2 separate regions of the Homo sapiens genome follow, and region 1 is linked to region 2. Evidence: fine-mapped expression QTL. A gene starts in region 2. The other region holds a variant in brackets. All regions are shown on one strand. Distances are from middle to middle. Region 1 has its middle 74 kb from the start of ANGPTL1. Region 2 holds the start of ANGPTL1 (angiopoietin like 1).

Region 1 (9,303 bases), 73 kb before region 2:
GCTTGGGCGACAGAGTGAGACTCTGTCTGAAAAAAATAAATAACTAAAACAAAAAATAAAAAAGAGATGAGGTCTTTTTTATATTGTCCAGGCTGGTCTCAAACTCCTGGGCTCAAGGGATCCCTCCGCCTCGGCCTCCCAAAGTCCTGTACTGGGATTGCAAATGTGAACCACCACACCTGGTCATGATTTTTTTTTTTTTCTTTCCCAAGATGGAGTCTCGCTCTATTGCCCAGGCTGGAGCATGATCTCGGCTCACCGCAACCTCCGCCTCCCAGGTTCAAGTGATTCTTCTGCCTCAGCCTTCTGTGTAGCTGGGACTACAGGCATGCACCACCACGCCCGGTTAGTTTTTGTATTTTTAGTAGAGACGGGGTTCCTCTATGTTGGCCAGGCTGGTCTCAATTTCCTGACCTCGTGATCCACCCACCTCAGCCTCCCAAAGTGCTGGGATTACAGGCGTGAGCCACTGCGCCCGGCCAATTTTGTTTTTTTAATATACTGTATTTTGTAGAGCAATGTTAGGTTCACAGCAAAGTTGAGCAGAAAATACAGAGAATTCCCATATATGCCCTGCCCTCACACACAATCTCCTCCACTGTCAACTTCCCAAATCACAGTGGTACCTATACTGACGCGGCATCATCACCCAGAGTCCATAGTTTACATTACCATTCACTCTTGGTGTTGTACATTCTATGAGTTTGGGAAAATGTATAATCACATGTATCCACTATTACAGTATCACACAGAATATTTTCACTGCCCTAAAAATCCTCTGTGCTCCATCTATTCATCCTTCCCTCACCCCTAGTCCCTGGCAACGACTGTTCTTTTTACTGTCTCCATAGTTTTGCCTTTTCCAGAATGTCATATCGTTGGAATGATACAGTATATGGGCTTTGCAGTCTTCTCCATGCCTTTTCGTGACAGCTCATTTGCTTTTATCACTAAATAATATTTCACTGTCTGGGTATACCACAGTTTAGCCATTCATTTACTGAAGGACATCTTGGCTGATTCCAAGTTTTGGCAATTATGAATAAAGCTGCTGTAAACATCTGTGTGCGGTTTTTTTTTTTAAATGGACATTAATTTGCAATTTATTTGGGTAAATACCAAGAGGCATGATTGCTGGGTCATACAGAAAGAGTATGTTTAGTTTTATAGAAACTGCCAAAGTGTCTCCCAATGTGGCTGTACCATTTTGCATTCCCACCAGCAATGAATGAGAGTTCCTGTTGCTCCTCATCCTTGCCAGCATTTGGTGTTTTTGGATTTTGGCCATTCTAATAGGTGTGAAATCGGACCTTGTTTGAAATACGTGTTTGATGTACTAGCTATGTAGTGTGTGAATATTTAGAGTAATGTTCATAGTTTAAGGAGTGATGATTGTTAAAAATGCATAAGATTAATAAATGGGCATTGAGCCAGGTGTAAACAGTAGTTGGTATTCCTCTCCATGCCTGGGAATTCTACAGATTTGCAGCGCCTTGAATATGACATGAACAGTGCAGGACTGTGTACCAGGTGGAGGTGGCTAGGGACCACATTCTCTCCATGGTAGTATTTTGAGGGAGTGTCAAGGGAAGATGGGTCAATCAAGGTTGGAGAGGGTGGACACAGGACTTGGGGCGGAGGTGGCTAGGGAGGGCCGCATTGCTCTCTATGATGGACTAGAAGCATTTTGAGGGGAGTGTCAAGGAGAAAAGGGTCAACCAAGGTTGGAGAGCATGGGGGAAAAGCAATATGGCAGAAGATCAAAGCCCAGGATTGTGTCAATGGCCAAGGAAAAATTTAATAGGGTGTTTAATATTTCATTTGATGTGAGTAGCATTGCTGTGATGTGAACCTTCTTTGTTTTTATAAGTTGGCTACACTATAAATGCCTTACGTGAGTGGTTTTTATGAAACTCCAGGAAAAATGTCCATGCCTGCATCCATGAGGGACAGAAAGAAGGAACAGCCATGGGCAGGGGGAGGTGAGTGAGACTGAGATACTTGTGGCAACAGCCTGAAGTGACTTCATTAATGTGGTTCCCCTCCCTCCAAGGACTGCTTAGGGATGTTGTGACAAGGAAGTGGGTGAAAAGGTAACAGGTGACATATGATGCAGGCGTGTTCGAGCCAGCCCTTATCAGCTTGCAAGTTGATTGTTAAATTTGCAGGAATTTTGGTGAGCCAGATATTAAACCATTGGTAGAGTGAAGTCAACCACAATGGGAGGTATTCTAATATTAACACCACAGAAACTGGTACAAACATTACAAATCAGCACTCGCCCCCCCCACCCCCTGTCCACAGCCTGTTAAACATTGACCAGCACACCACCACATATGAGGCCATTTCTTTTCTTTTTTTTCTCCCTTTTTAGAGATAGGGTCTCGCTCTGTCACTCAGGCTAGAGTACAGTGGCTCTACTGTACTCTACTGTTTGAGCTCACTGTAGCCTCAAACTTCTTGTCTCAAGCAGTCCTCCCACCTCAGCCTCTGGAGTAGCTAGGACTATAGGCATGTGCCACCACACCTCACTAATTTAAAACTTTTTTTTTTGTAGAGATGGGGTCTTGCTATGTTGCCCAGGCTGGTCTCAAACTCCTGGCCTCAAGCAATCCTCCAACTTTGGCCTCCCAAACTGCTGGGACTACAGGCGTGAGCCACTGTGCCCAACCGTGAGTCCATTTCTGATCTTGCTCCCATCCTTTTTCCAGGCTCATTTTGTGTTACTTCCTGTTTTCACCCAGATGCCAAAGCAGTCACAATTTCTACCTCCTGGTCTTCTGCAAATACACTGCCCTTACCCTGGCTCCTTTCCAGTTTTCAACTGAAATATCACCTCCTGGGGCTGCTGCCAGCACAGACAGTGCTTGAACACCTTAGGAAAAGGTGTCTGACCCCATGGGGCCCCTCCTTGTGCTCCCCTCCCATCCTCTCCCCTACAGTTTGAGGTCCTTGAGTTGGGCCTGCACATTCACTCATTTCTGAATGAGGAGAGCCTGGTGTGGACCGGACCCTCTCTCAGCTTCTGCAGAACTAATCTCTCCTGGTAGTTTTGTGCCTCAAGGACAGTCATGGTGGGACCAAGTGGCGGCTGATGCCGTCTTTGAAGTTAGAGGGAAAAGTCTGCAGAGCTTCCCTGGATGAGGCGAGGTGAGGGGCAGCAGGGGGCGCGTGCGGATGACAGGGAATTAAAGAGAAGACCCCTCATGTGCTGAGGCCTGAAGCTCCACTCCGGTGTGGCAGGATTTCTGGCCTGCGCCTGCCTCTATTGTGGAGGGAGGAACCAATATCACAGCGTGAACTGGTCCCCAGGGCTCTGGGATGGCTCCAAGGTGTCCCTGCATCAGACCACGCTGTCTCTGGGCCGCCCTCTGTCTCTGCTGTTGCTCCCGGTCAGAGCCATTTTCTGACTTGTCGGCAGGACTGGAAATGGTGACTTGAATGAAAAATTCAAGCTGCAGGGAAAATTTTTAGGGCTGCAGAGAGAACTGCTCTCGGGGCTTTTACAAGGCTCTCTTTTCCCAAAGACGGCGCCATCCCAGAGCATTTAAAACTTGTCCCTGCCCTCAGCTCCACCAACTCCTGTTAGAAGGGAGGGGAGGGAAGATGAAGAGAAACACAGGGGAAGATGCCTGCTGAGTCAGCCCTGGGAACCGAAAGACAGAGCCGGCCCCTGCACGCCCTGCCTCCCCTCGGTTCACCAAGGACAGGCAGCAGTCAGGAGGGGCTGCCAGAGACTGTGCCCTCACACCCGCTTCCTTACTCGGAGCAGCGCCCATCACAAACCCTATTGACTTTAGAATGCTGTGTATTGCTTAAAAATCCGTACTGATGCAAGCCAGTCTTCCTAAGGGTGGTCACTGTCGCCATCCCCAGCAGGAGAGTGCTTCGGGAACCAAGAAAGTAAGCGTCCACGCCCGCCTGGTGCAGCAGAGAGGAGTCCTGCCCAGGTGCCTGGCCCGTCCCAGGCTTGGTTGGGACA[T/C]GCGCTTCAGCTACCTTACCTCTCTGGTTTCAGATTCCCCTCTGAGTGGCCAAGATTTCTTTTCCTGGAAAGCCGAGCACCTGTTTTTCCCGAGCCTCTGGTGCCCAAGCCATCACCACTGCTTTCCTGGGAACCACTCCAGGGTGGTTGACTTGGTACCTTGCAGAAACCCTTTTGCTCAAAAAAAAAAAAAAAAAAAAAAATCTACCTCTGAGCCAGGCGTGCCTGCCAGGAGAGACCTGGGAATATGAAATTCCTTAGAAGGTTTGCTCTGAGGCTGAAAGCAACTAAATGGCTGAATGGGATCATGTGGAGCTTCTTGTCCTTCTAACCTGAGAAACTCAAGCATCACATATTTTCTTGTATCTTCTTTCTCCCTTTTCTACTTAAGACTAAAATAGGTGCTCAAATAGGCGACCGTCCTGCTGCCTCCATCGAAACACACTATGGCTCTAAGACGCAAAGATGCAACTCTTTTTGTGACTCGTGGACATGGGGTCATCCCTCAGTGCTCATTGTGCTCTTGACATAAATGATGACCCTGCAAACAGCTACTGGGTGCTGCCTATAGGCCAGCATTGTGTTAAGCAGTGTACAGGCACCATCTCATTTAATCATTTCAACTACGTTGTGAGGAAGGGAAGTATTATTTTTGTCATCATTTTCCAGGTGAGAAAACCAAGCCTCAGAAAGTTATGAAGCTGATCACACAGTTCATATGCAGTGGTGTTGGAATGTAGACTCAAATATTTCGGACTCGGGGTACAATACTGCCTTCCTGTGACTTGTAAATTCAGTCCAGTTGTGAAGTGCAAAGTCTCACTTGGACTGGTAATATGGTTTGGCTCTCTGTCCTTACCCAAATCTCACCTTGAACTGTAGTAATCCCCACATGTCATGGGAGGGGCCCGGTGGGAGGTAAGTGAATCATGGAGGTGGGTATTTCCTGTGCTGTTCTCATCATAGTGAATAAGGCTCACGAGATCTGATGGTTTTATAAAGGGGAGTTCCCCTACACATGCTCTCTTGCCCGCTGCCATATAAGACATGTCTTGCTACCCCTTTGGCTTCCACCATGATTGCGAGGCCTCTCGAGCCATGTAGAACTGTGAGTCGATTAAACCCCTTTCTTTTATAAATTACCCAGTTTTGGGTATGTCTTTATTAGCAGCATGAGGACAGACTAATAGAACTGGTCTTTGGACAATAGACAAACTATAACACCAATCCTTTTTTTTTGAGATGGAGTCTCACTTTGTCACTCAGGCTGGAGTGCAGTGACGTAATCTCGGCTTACTGCAACCTCCGCCTCCCGGTTTCAAGTGATTCTCCTGCCTCAGCTCCCTGAGTAGCTGGAATTACAGGTGCCCGCCACTACGCCCAGCTAATTTGTGTATTTTTAGTAGAGACGGGGTTTCACCATATTGACCAGGCTGGTCTCAAACTCCTGATCTCAAGTGATCCACTTGCCTTGGCCTCCCAAAGCTCTGGGATTACAGGCGTGAGCCACTGTGCCCGGCCTAGTCCTGTTTTGAGAAAGTAGAAAATGCCATCCCTAGACAATCTCTGTCAACACATTATTAAAAGGTTAAATTAGTGTAAGTTTACCAGTTGCTGACAGACATTGAACTTCTTTGGCCTGGGTTTTTCTCTACAAGTGGTGTTTTCCCACTTCCATGTTGTACCCAGGAAGTATGATGTTGGACCATCTGAAGTTGGTGTTATTGTAGGTCAATACCGATAGACTATCAGCAATTTCATGTGAGTCAACCTAATCACAGATACTGCAGCTTGAGAAGCCTTTACTATCTTTACCACCCCATCCCCCCAAACCCTCAAGCAATAATTCTTTCTGCCCCAATTTTACCCTCACTTCAAGTTCCAGCTAAAATAATGCCAGCTCCTCCAAGAAGCCTTTCTCGAATTCTCAACTGGAAACAGTCTTTCCTGAACTTCCACAGCACCTGATTTGTACCTCTCTTCACTATCTTCTGGACATATTGGTTGTGTATATGTGTGCATTCTTTTGCCTGGTCAAGGAGCCATGTCTAATTTTTTTGTTTGTTTGTTTTTGTTTTTGAGATGGAGTTTTGCTCTTGTTGCCCAGGCTGGAGTGCAATGGTGCAATCTCGGCTCACTGCAACCTCTGTCTCCTGGGTTCAAGCGATTCTCCTGCCTCAGCCTCTGGAGTAGCTGGGATTACAGGCACCTGCCACCATACCCGGCTAATTTTTTGTATTTTTAGTAGAGACAGGGTTTCACCATGTTGGCCAGGCCGGTCTCAAACTCCTGACCTCAGGTGATCCACCTGCCTTGACCTCCCAAAATGCTGGGATTACAGGCGTGAGGCGCCTGGCCAGCCATGTCTAATTTATCCCTATCTGATCAGCTCTCAGCATAATATCTGGCACATGGTAGCTGCTGGTTAAGAGTTTACTGAGCTCAGCTGTATGACTTTCTGCTCTTGTGGTGGCAGTGTCTATCCCAGGGCTTCACACTCTAGCTTGTAGGATAATCTGAGCAGAAATCGGGGAATGGGGGGTAGTCCTCCCAGTCTCTCCCACCCCCACCCTGGTACCTTCTCGGGAAAAGGGTAGTGAAAGTGCACCTCTGGCCCTGCTTGGGTGGAGAGTAGCTGAGAAGCCCTCTCTGAGTGAGACTGAATGAAAGGCTCAGGTGAGGATCACTTTAGATGTGCCAGGGACAGGGCCCTTTTAATGTCATTCTACCTCAGAGAAACATCTCCCGAATCCGGCTGATTGGCAGAGCCACAGCCACAATTTCAGTCATTGCCTCATGTACCGTCTCAGGAAGTGGTCTGCTGGCCGGTGAGTCAGAAGGCAGGGGCTCTGCATTTTCCCCACTGACTACGTTCTGGAAAGGATCCCCTGGCAGCCCTTCCCTCCCAGGCTTGATTAAAATGGAAGGGATTAGTGAATTTGTGTTTCCTCCAGAGAGGCGAAATCCACACAAACTGAGTCGGCTTCGTCTCTAGAAAATGTTGATGGTAGAAGACTGCATGCTCTTGAGTAGCTCATCTCAAGAGCTGTGGTTTCCTCTTTGTATCTCCTGGCTTAAAAGCATGACAGGAAAAGGGGGAAGCCAGGATTTGAAGTGGCTGACAATCTCCATCTCTTTGTGGGCAACTACCCAGTGCAGACTCCAGATCCAGCACAGTCTCCAAATCCAGCGCAGTGGAGCCAGCATATGGGAGACATGGGGTGCGGGGGAGAACACAGGCGGAGACGGAGGGCTGTTGGGTCTTCCAGGCACCAGCTGTGTGACCTGGGCAGCAGGACCCCTCCGGGTCATGCTGCACCTCACTTTCACCACCTCTCCTGTCTGCCAGCCTCAAGTGAGAATGCAGATGGTGCAGGCAATACTGCTGAAAACAAGTTCAGGGGCACAAAACCCAACCGCAAACACACATAAGAAAGTACTTAGAAAAATCATAAAGAGCTGCATGAATGTAAAGAATCAATATTATCCACTCAGTCCTTAACTCGCTTACTGAGTGGTTAGGAGATGCTAGGCAGTATGGGCAGTGCCTGGACACAGATGAAAGCTCCTGGCCCTCGAGGAAGTCAGACAGCAGTGGGGAGACAGACAAAGACAAGAGGAATCACCAACGCTAAGCAAAGACACAGGCGTGAAAGCATGCAGGAGCACGCAAGAGACTGTGTTGAGGAGCCGGTAAAGTGGCAGGGGTGACCCGGGGGAAACAGGATGGGGAAGGCAAGGGCGTTCCAAGCACGGGAGCAGCACAGGCAAAGGCTCTGAGTCAGGGAGACAATGATGCATGGGGGGGGACCTCCAGCTGTTGCTCATGGTGGGTGGGAGGGTGCAGGGCAAGGGCTGCAAGGCCGGAGCCTGTGAAGGTGGGCAGGATCGGATCACGGAGGGCCTTGGAAGCCATGCAAGTTGCTCCAGTGTGCTCTGGAAATGAGGAGGCCGCTGCGGGTTTTTATTCGTATTTATTTATTTTGGAGGCAGTCTTGCTGTACCGCCCAGGCTGGAGTGAAGTGGTGCGATCTCACTGCAACCTCTGCCTCCCGGGTTCAAGCAATTCTCATGCCTCAATAGCTGAATAGCTGGCATTAGGCATGCACCACCACGCCCAGCTAATTTATTTTTTTTATTTTTAGTAGAAACGGGGTTTCACCGTGTTGCCCTGGCTGGTCTCAAACTCCTGATCTCAGGCAATTCGCCCACCTTGGCCTCCTAAAGTGCGGGGTTTCAGGCATAAGCCACTGCGCCCAGCCCCACTGCAGGTTTTTAACAGGCCCGTGGCAGGAGCGGATGTGGGTTTCAGGGAAGATCACCACGGCTGCAGGGTGCCCGCATGGAGGCGGAGAGCATGCTGAGGAGCCAGCCTAGCCCCATCGGTAGCAAGCAAGGTAGTGGAAACCCAAACTGAGAGGCAGTGGGCGTGGCACCTGTGTGAACAGGAGTCAGGAAATTTAAGTATGAAGGAAGCTGCATGTGGAGACTTAGTAAGTAATTGGATGAATGGGTTTAGGGAAGGTAGGAGGCTGGGATGCCTGTGGGACGTGGGCTGGTGAGAACCTGGTGCTATTTTCAGAACTGGGGATGCAGGAAGAGAGTCAGGTTAGGGAGGGAGATGAAGAGTTCTATTTTGAGTATCCTGAACTTCCTTCCTTTTAAGTGGAAAATAGCATTTCCCCTCCTTTATACTATCAATTTGTTTCGTTGAAATGTCCTTTGCTGCAAAAAATTTTTCAGGACACCCAGAAGAATACATAAGTGAATAAAAATTCTCAATTCTATTACTTGGAGATAGTTAACATATTGGTGACTGTTCTTCCAAATCTTTTTTCTCTGCACGTTAATTCTAAAAAACATAATTAGGGGCCAGGTGTGGTGGCTCACACCTGTAATCCCAGCACTTTGGGAGGCCGAGGCAGGTGGATCACCTGAGGTCAGGAGTTCGAGACCAGCCTGGGCAAAATGGTGAAATGCTGTCTCTACTAAAAATACAAAAATTAGCTGGGCGTGGTGGCGTATGCCTGTAATCCCAGCTAGTAGGGAGGCTGAGGCAGGAGAATTGCTTGAACTCAGGAGGTAGATGTTGCAGTGAGCTGAGATTGTGCCATTTCACTCCAGCCTGGGTGACAAGAGTGAAACTCCATCTCAAAAAACAAACAAAAAACAAAATACATAAATAAGATAGAGTATAACACCTTAAAAAACTTTTGGTGCTCAGGCGTGCCCTAGATCAATATAATCAGAATCGCTGGGGGTTGGGGACCAGGCCTCAGTGTTTTTAAAGCTGTCCAGATGATCGTATGTGCAGTCAGGGT
Region 2 (9,303 bases):
ACTCAGCTTTTTCTTATACCTAAAATGTTTTCTGGACTTATCTCTGCCTATCCAAATCTTATATTTTGCTTATCTAATTCGGTGTCAATATTCTCTAGTTTTCTCACAGATTCCAAGAAAGGAATTCAGACACTGTCTAGTCTAATCCTCTCCTTTTATAGATGAAGAACCTGAAATACATAGATAGTAAAGGGACCTGTCTAATGCCATGCAACCTGTTAGTGACAGCTGGATCTCAGACGTTTCACTTATAGCCCAATTTAAAAAAAAATTACTTATATTCTATTAAAAAATCATACATTATGTGTGCTTACTATTCACTTAATGACTTTTATGACTTCAAAATCTCATTACTTATTTTTTTTACATTTATATCTTATCTATTCAAGACTGCAAACTCATTTAAGGCAGTTGCTCTATCTTGCACTCCAAGAGAAAGAAAATCTTGTGCAATGTTTTGACAATAGGTGCTTAACATAAAAGGTTGGCATGGCAATCTTTTTACTCATCCTAGTATCATTCATTTTCCACTCAGTAAATCTTTACAGTATTCTTTAAGTCACCTATCATACTTTTTTTTCTTTAGATAACCTCAACTTTATTTCCCTATGACTCCAAATGAATCTTGAGGTTCCAAATGAAGCTGAGGTTCTTCCCACTTTCCCCAATCTTGGAGGAAGAATCATCTCTCTCTTCTTCCGAAATCTCAACTGTAATTTTGAATGCAATCGTTGCTGCCTCCTTCCAGACAACCACTGTTGCCTCTACTATCATTCACCCCTACTGGCTCCTTCCCCAGAGCCAGTATACATATTTTTTTTTAAACCATTTTTTTTTTCAAGAAAGAGTCTTGCTCTGTCACAGGCTGGAATGCAGTGGTGCGATCTCGGCTCACTGCCACCTCTGCCTTCTGGGTTCAAGTGATTCTTGTGCCTCAGCCACCCGAATAGCTGAGATGACAGGCATGCGCAACCACGCCTGGGTAGTTCTTGCATTTTTAGTAGAGATGGGGTTTCACCATGTTGGCCAGGCTGGTCTCGAACTCCTGGTCTCAAGTGATCCACCCGCCTCAGCCTCCCAAAGTGCTAGGATTACAGGCATGAGCCACTGCACCTGGCCCAATATACATGTTTAAATCTCCCCTACTTATAAAACAAAATCTAAGCAACTCTTCCTTCAAATCTGATCCCACGCCTCAAGATAACATCCTTGTCCTCCCTTCAACAAACACCTTGGAAGAGAAACATACAATAGTACACTTCTTTTATTCTTCGTTCTATTTTTAATGTAATATTTGATACACATGTGTCAGGAAAATTGTGAAAAACTTTGAGATGGGAAAAAAGATTACTGGGTATCCTGTCTCCAGTGCACCCATTTGGTCCTTCTGAGCTATTTTACAACTCTGCACAGCTGTTGAAAACTGGTAATACAAATTATTGTCCATAAACATGCCAAAGAATTATGTCCAGTGGGATCTAATCAGTGATGACCAATTTTGCAACTATTTGTAAATTTACTTCAGCGTTCCTGATTGCATATATGTGTGTTACTTTGAATTCTCCCTTGACACATTTTTGATTCCCTTATAAATTTAATAATTTAAATGAAAATTCTGACACATATTCATTTCATATTTGTGTGAGAATCGTGATTTCACAAAAATTATTGCCGGGAACGGTGGCTCATGCCTGTAATCTCAGCACTTCGGGAGGCTGAGGCGGGCAGACTGCTTAGGAGTTTGAGACCAGTCTGGGCAACATGGTGAGACTCCTGCCCTAAGAAAAAATTATCAACACATGTGACACTTGTTGTTATCAAACAACATAATAAACATTTGTGAAAGACCAGTCAACTTATGACTACAACATCCCTAAGGAGAGCTAAAAGATTCCTCAAGGAAATGGCACGGGGATGTTGGCATATGTACATCAATAACAGCAATAGAAGATATAAAAAAGTAGCACAGAAAAGTTTAAACAGGAGTTTCATAAGAATTCTGTGCAAAAAAATGTCATTCCTTGCTGATGGGATCAGAGAAAGCTTCAAGGAAGAAGTGGGATTTGAGCGGGGTACTAATGTGCCAGTTCTTGCCATTCTTCCATCTTATTAAACTCAGATGACAACTCGCCTGTAGTCACTCGCTATACTGTGCTGTCCAATATAACCACTTGCCACATGTGACTACTGTTTCGTGGGTCTATTCTGAATTGAGGTGTATTTGAATATAAAATAGACAAGATTTTGAAGAGTTAACATGAAAAATTAATGTAAAATATCTATTAACTTTTTTATTGGTTACATGTTAATATTTTAATATGTTGGGGTAAACTACTTTAAAAAAGAACTACGACATCATCAATACTGTTGCATCTATCTGTATGTTCCTTCTCTACTTCATCTCCTTGCTTCCTGTCCAGAAGTAACCATTACCTTGAACTTTAAGATCATTCCCTTATTTTTTCCCCGACATTTGTCTGTATTCCTACTTTTGCCTATTTTTGAGCTTTAAAAATCATATTTTATTGTATGTGTGGATTAAATAATAGTATTTGTAATGTTAGAAAAGTGTCTAGTATGGGAGGCTGAGGCAGGAGAATGGCGAGAACCCAGGAGGCGGAGCTTGTAGTGAGCCGAGATCGTACCACTGCACTCCCGCTTGGGTGACAGAGCAAGACTCCGTCTCAAAAAAAAAGTGTCTAGTACATACCAAGTGATTTATAAGCATTTATTAAATAAAATTTAAAAATATGGTCTTCTGTGGTTGCTTCGTCTATTTTGTTTCTAAGACTTGTCCACGCTGTTAAATGCTGCTGTAATTCCTTATAATGAGAACAAGCTAATGTGTGACAATTGTAACTCATCCATTTTATTTGATAGACTTTTGAGTTACTCCCATCCCACCCCCAACCATGTTGCTATAGACATTCTTATACACATCTCCCAGTACACATGTACAAAATTTCTTCAGGATATACAAACATGCCTAGGAGCAAAACTGCCAAGTGCTAAAGTATATTAATATTCAACTTTACAAGATGGTGTCACATTATTTTTCAAAGCTGTATCAATTCATACTCCCACTCACGGTATATAAGCTTCTGTTGATCCACATTTGTGCTAACAATTGGTATTATCCATCTCAATTTTGCCAATCTTCTGAGTATAAAATGGTATCTCTCTGTGTCTTAATTTTTATTTCCTTGATTAGTAATAAGGTTAAACGTATATATTTCTATGTAATAAATGTTTCTGTTCATTTTTTCTTTTGGGTTGTCTTTTTCTTATGGATTTCTAATTTCTTAATGTATTGTGGACACTAATTTGTCAGTTAAATTTTATCTAGTCACCCTTCAACACACTAAATAATCTGAAATCTGTATGTATCACTTATTTTGGCAATGGCATTAATAACTTTCTCATTCTAAGTCTTAAAACATCTCTCTTGGTCTCCCCTCCCTATGTAATGTCTCTGCAGTATTGTAACCATTCTCGTCTAGTTCTCAGGTTTTCCCTACCTTGAACTTTCGTATCTTCCCCCTAAGCCCCCACCATTCTTCTTTTTCCTCATGTTTCTTGTAAGCTGGTTTCCTGGAAATTGGTATCATGGTCTGTCATTAACCTTCCTTTACATTCTACATGTACTTTCTCTAGTATCTTAGTTCCATAGCTTTAGCTACTACCTAATTGCTGGTGACTTTCAAATCTCTCCATATAACTGAGCTCCTGACTTTCATTTTCAATTTAACATATCTAACCATAATCTGTCCCTAAATACCTGTCATTCCAATTTCCTACCCTGGCTAGTGATATTACTAAGTGCTCAAGTTAGAAAGCTCCAAACTGCTGAAAGTTTAAAAGCTCAGAAAGAATTTATTATCTCTTATTTTTCCCAGATTTAAGCCATTAGTGACTACAACATAATTACTGAATGCTCAAGAAACGATACATAATACAAATCAGAGGCCAGAAGCTGGCAGCACATCTGTCCCAATGTTTTTTAAAATCAGGAAGTATTACAGGAAAAATCTAAATGGCTCTTTTTTCCTGAATAATGGGAAGATCTGGCAACACTGTCTCATAATCCTTCATGGCCACAAGCACAGCTGAGAAGGTGCAGGCAGATCCCTTTAAATTAACCAAAAGGATGCCAACTTGCCATAAACTTCATTTCCCTCCAGTATCTTACTACTGATTTACTTCACTGATTTATATTACCTGCTCCATTCTTCTTGTGAGCATTTGCCTTTCTAGGCCCTTGTGTTTGCAACCTCTGGTATACCTATATATGGCATAGGAATTCAAATAAATGATTCTGTGAAAGAGGTAGAAAATAAGCTCAGACTTTAAATAAAGGATGTGGATCAACAGTGTGGCCTAACAGAAAGAGAAACACAGCACAAGCTACAGCAATAAGGAAGGGAAAGCACAGGTATGTAGAGAAAGCCCAAAAGTTTTATCTAGAAGCAGCTTACAGCAACTAGGTAATCAATGACAGAGAGTGTGGCATAATGCTTTGGCATTAGATTCAAATCCCAGTTCCACTACTTAGTACTTAAGTGCTAAGCTAAGTTACTTAAGCCTAAGTTTGTGTTTCTTCAGCTACTGAGTTATTTAACATTTCTTCAATTAATGAAATACAATAGTATAGTTGTACTCAACACTTATTCATTTCTTCCACCACCTTATTTCATAGCAGAAGAACCTTGCCAGAGGCAGGTAAAGTGATTTGTCTAAGTTCACATAGCTGGCATAGAGTCAGAGCTTCCTTGTTTTTTACTCAGTTCAGGGTTATGTTTGTTTTTAAACCACACCACATCAATTAATAACAAGAATGACCTTTTACAGAGAGGAGAGGTCATTTTGTAGAATAGGAGGATATGACATTATGTAACACCAGAATGTAATATTTAAAAGTCTTAAGCATCTGAAAGAATTTCACTTATGTTTGGTAATTATATATAAAGGCTGTTTTATCTTAAGACACATTACACAGTAAGACATAACATACTACAACAACATCAAGTTTCTTGTAAGTTTAAAACCTTCATTAGCAACTTAGTAAAATGTTTACAAATTCTTCTAGGCTATAAAGAGTATTTATTACATTATTTAGGTGGCTGCCTCCTGACAAAGTCTAGCTCTTGTTCTTTGTTAACAAAAACCAAACTCATCAGCCTGCAACTACTTCTAAGTGAAGTGGAGCACTATTTTTTTTTTCGGTATTCAACTTAAAAGATCTCTGGCCAGCAGACTAAAATGTTTGTTTTATAATTGCCCGCTGAACTATGATAGTTTGTTTCCAGATGGTGCCCTTCCTTCAACCTGCACACAATCTCTCCTTGTTCAAAACTATTCAACCTCCTGCTGATCCCACCCCCCTATTTAAGGCTACAAAGAGGAAATCCTAAGGAGATTCCCGCCCCCAGTCTCCAGCAATTTTTGGTGATGTAATATGTGGGCTGAACTTGAGTCTACTGAGAAAGAGGGAATCACTATTCAGGGGTACTGTATATACAATCTGGGTCAGCTGCAGCTGGTTACTGCATTTCTCCATGTGGCAGACAGAGCAAAGCCACAACGCTTTCTCTGCTGGATTAAAGACGGCCCACAGACCAGAACTTCCACTATACTACTTAAAATTACATAGGTGGCTTGTCAAATTCAATTGATTAGTATTGTAAAAGGAAAAAGAAGTTCCTTCTTACAGCTTGGATTCAACGGTCCAAAACAAAAATGCAGCTGCCATTAAAGTCACAGATGAACAAACTTCTACACTGATTTTTAAAATCAAGAATAAGGGCAGCAAGTTTCTGGATTCACTGAATCAACAGACACAAAAAGGTATTTAATATTTCTTTTATTTAAAAATATTATGTATAGCAAATGCATAACTATTTTATATTTGTAGTAGAAATTTCAGAATCTTTTACTAAACAAAGACCTTTGGAATATACTACAGTTTATCTCATCTGAAAAAGGTTTTATCTTGCAACTTGACATAAAAACATTAAGTACTGTGCAATGGTTAATGCATTATTTGAGGTTCAATTTAATGATGTTTAGTGTATATGATTACAGACTGATACATGCATGCCATGCTGGGTTTCTGAAAACAAGTGCTTTAGTGACAGTAGAAAGAAATTTTAACAAGTAACAGATTAAATGTATAAGGCTTACAGCACAATGATTAAAAACAAAGGAATACAAACTAAATAGTCGTGAACACAATTAGTTTCTCTTCCTGCAGCCACAGTGTGTGTGCTGAAGATATACATAAACTGTTGGATTTCTCAGTGTAGTCATAAAACAAAGCTAAGATACAAAAATAGTTGAAAGTCTTTGCAACAAAATCTCAATTACAGTATAACCAAATATTAAGCAGAAATTCTTGTACAGATTTAAGATTAATCTATGGCATTTCTTGTTCCAACTCAAAATTTTAAATAGCTTTCCAGGCTTACATGTAATAGTAATTTAATTTGGATGACAGAAATTAAACTTGCTACAAATGGAATCACTTGGAAAAGCTAAGTTATTGATATACACACAAAAGCATTATGTAAGTGGTATTAACAATAGAAAATAAGAACCCAGAAGATGTAATTAAATTCATGACTAAAAGGCCAAAAATATGTAATATTTTAGGTAGAAATAATTTTGTTAAGCACACATAAGAGGTTTCCTTCAATATTCTATCTGGGAGCTTTTTTTACATGCATTATAAAAACTATTAAAGATAAAATTACTCGTTACCAATAGTATGCCTTAAACCAAAGACACTTAAGTTTGTTAGATTTGGGGCTCCTTTAGCCTTGTAAAAATTAAAGATATTAATGGTTAAGAATCTTGAACAAGCAAATAATGGTAAAGCTAAAATTTTTTCCAACTTTGCTTTTGTGTCCTTTCCTTAAAGATTTAAAACTGTAAATGCTGGCAGGATTTCTGTTAAACACATATTTTACAAGAAATTCTAACAAAATTTCCAAGCAACAGTGGATCTGAAATACTGTCATCTCTCTTTTTTGTTGTTGCATGCTATGGGAAGTGCAGGACTTCATTAAGCCTCAGTTCTTACTGACGCTGTCTTAAGGCAGGCATTTAATCTGAACCCCAAATTACACAGATAACTATTTATCCTTTTCTTAAATATATCCAGGGGATTAGATTGTTCTCAAGTCTCTTCCCAGAACATATTTCACAATCTAGAAATTCTTTATCTAACATATCCTGAATGCTTCATAAATTTAACTTCATTGCCTCATGCTGTTTTCAGTGCATGACACAGCCAGTTAAATGCCTCTGTGAGTTTACCATCTGAAAGGAGGCAAATCCTGACTTTCGTTTCTTCTCTCTACTAGCTGGCAATATAGCAACTATGAAGAGAAAAGCTACTAATAAAATTAACCCAACGCATAGAAGACTTTTTTTTCTCTTCTAAAAACAACTAAGTAAAGACTTAAATTTAAACGTAAGTATTCTATAACTAATTTATAACATTCTCTTGGGGCCTAGGAAAATTTTAACATATACAGAAAGTTTTATGAGGTAACATAGATTTATGGATCTTTTGCTTCAAAACTGAACATATGTGAGAAAATATTAAATAAGAGAATGTTTTCAGAAAACATAACAGTAAATGTATTTTTAAAACCAGTTCTTTACTCCTGACGTAGCTAGTCTACTACTTAAGAAATGTGGCTCCTTGCCCTGCTTTAAGTGACAGTGAAGCCAATACTTTTGTATTTATTAAAAAAAAATTATATTTATTTAAAAACTAAACTTTTAGTTGCCTCCTTTAAATGCTAATTTAGACCACTTTCTCTTATGGTAAACAGTGATTTATCTTATGATTTAATCTTATAGGAACCACAATGAGCCAAGGCAGAATACACACAAGGAAGCTGTTTTTGTTTTAATTTAGATTAGCATTTTGGTGTTTTTTGTTCTTCAATGACAACACTGATGCAAAGTCCTAACAGCAGTCTTGGATGATGCGCTTTTAGCTGTTTTATAAAAATCTGTGTCTGGTATTAATACAAGCTGTTCAATCAGAATATTGCTCATAAAATTCTATTTGTTTTAGAGTTTTATATTACTTCCTGCATTTTCCTTGTTTTGGTAGTTTATTTCATAGTAAATATTATTTAAGTAAAATAATTTTATGATCTCAGAGTTTCCATTCTAGTATTAAAATGAATGGACTTTAGCAGTGGTAAGTTAAATTAAATATATAGGAAAAATGATATGCATGTGCCCAGGAGGATGATGGCTTTTATTTCTTGTCCCTAGTTTTTAAAATAACCCATATCTAAATTCCACGAATCTGGAGATATAATAAATGTTTTATTGGTTTTTGGTATAGGTAACTCCTACATAGTAAAAGTCTATTTTTAAAAATAAAATAGATGACTGTTTCTAAATTTTCTATATATGTCAGAAAGCAAGGTATGAAAACATAAAAAGCTAAAAAAAATACCCATGTGTGCTTTGGCTATCAGTCAGCAAAAGAAGGCCTCGATAGAAATACAGATTGTTATGTCCTCCCTATCTTTTGTTTTCATTCCCTCTCTTGTTAGTAAAATAATAATAATTCTCCATACTCCATCTATATTTGCCTTATTTTCATTATCTACCCATTTTGAAGACACTATTCAATTGAAAAATACCAAAAAAGGAACATGGTTTTAGAAAGTGAAAGTAGCAGTAGTCTTCATGACGACAGCATAAGAGTTATATTTCATTGACATGACCTTTGTTTTCGGGAGGGGTCCATAATCATAGGTTAGATATATAACTATCAGCTGACAGAATACATACAGAAGGAAAGAAATTGCCGCAGAAGAGTCTGAGATGTAAAAAAATGATCTGGCAGAACGTGGACACAAATTCTACCAAAAATTATCCATAAATACTTTTGCATAATTAAGTAACCGGTCAATGAAAAGGGACATAAACCAGGAAAAGGCAGCGAAAAACAAGAAACATAAACTTAAGACTCCTCTGTGGTTATGACATGACTAGGGTAAAAATCATAGGTCTAGAAAAGTTAGGAGTAGAAGGTTTGAATCCCATTTGAGTGATTTAGCTTCTCAAGGATTTTCCTCCTTTATAAAATGATACAGCATTACTTCAGTGTTATAAATGCAAATAGTTAACATGTGTTAAGCTACATAAATACAGGGGATTGAAAACATGAACTCTGAAGTCTTCAGCCTGGATTCAAATTCTCGCTCCATCACTATGAACCTGTGTGACTCTTGATAATAAGGTACTTAACTTTTGGATGCCAAGTTTTCCATC

Evidence for each region.
Region 1: its variant is fine-mapped to the expression of ANGPTL1 in skeletal muscle (GTEx, PIP 0.96).

Annotation. Positions count from the first base shown.
Region 1 is chr1:178,940,534-178,949,836 of GRCh38, reverse strand. No RefSeq gene overlaps it. Among named protein-coding and RNA genes, the nearest start is that of ANGPTL1, 74 kb to the right of the region's middle. RefSeq lists an enhancer at 2,764-3,549 and a silencer at 6,957-7,157. The variant T/C (reference allele first, on the strand shown) is at 3,983.
Region 2 is chr1:178,867,282-178,876,584 of GRCh38, reverse strand. It overlaps ANGPTL1 (angiopoietin like 1), which reads left to right and starts at 5,508. Exons shown (of 6, transcript NM_004673.4): 1 at 5,508-5,844; 2 at 7,362-7,471. The region is part of intron 8 of RALGPS2 (Ral GEF with PH domain and SH3 binding motif 2); the gene reads right to left.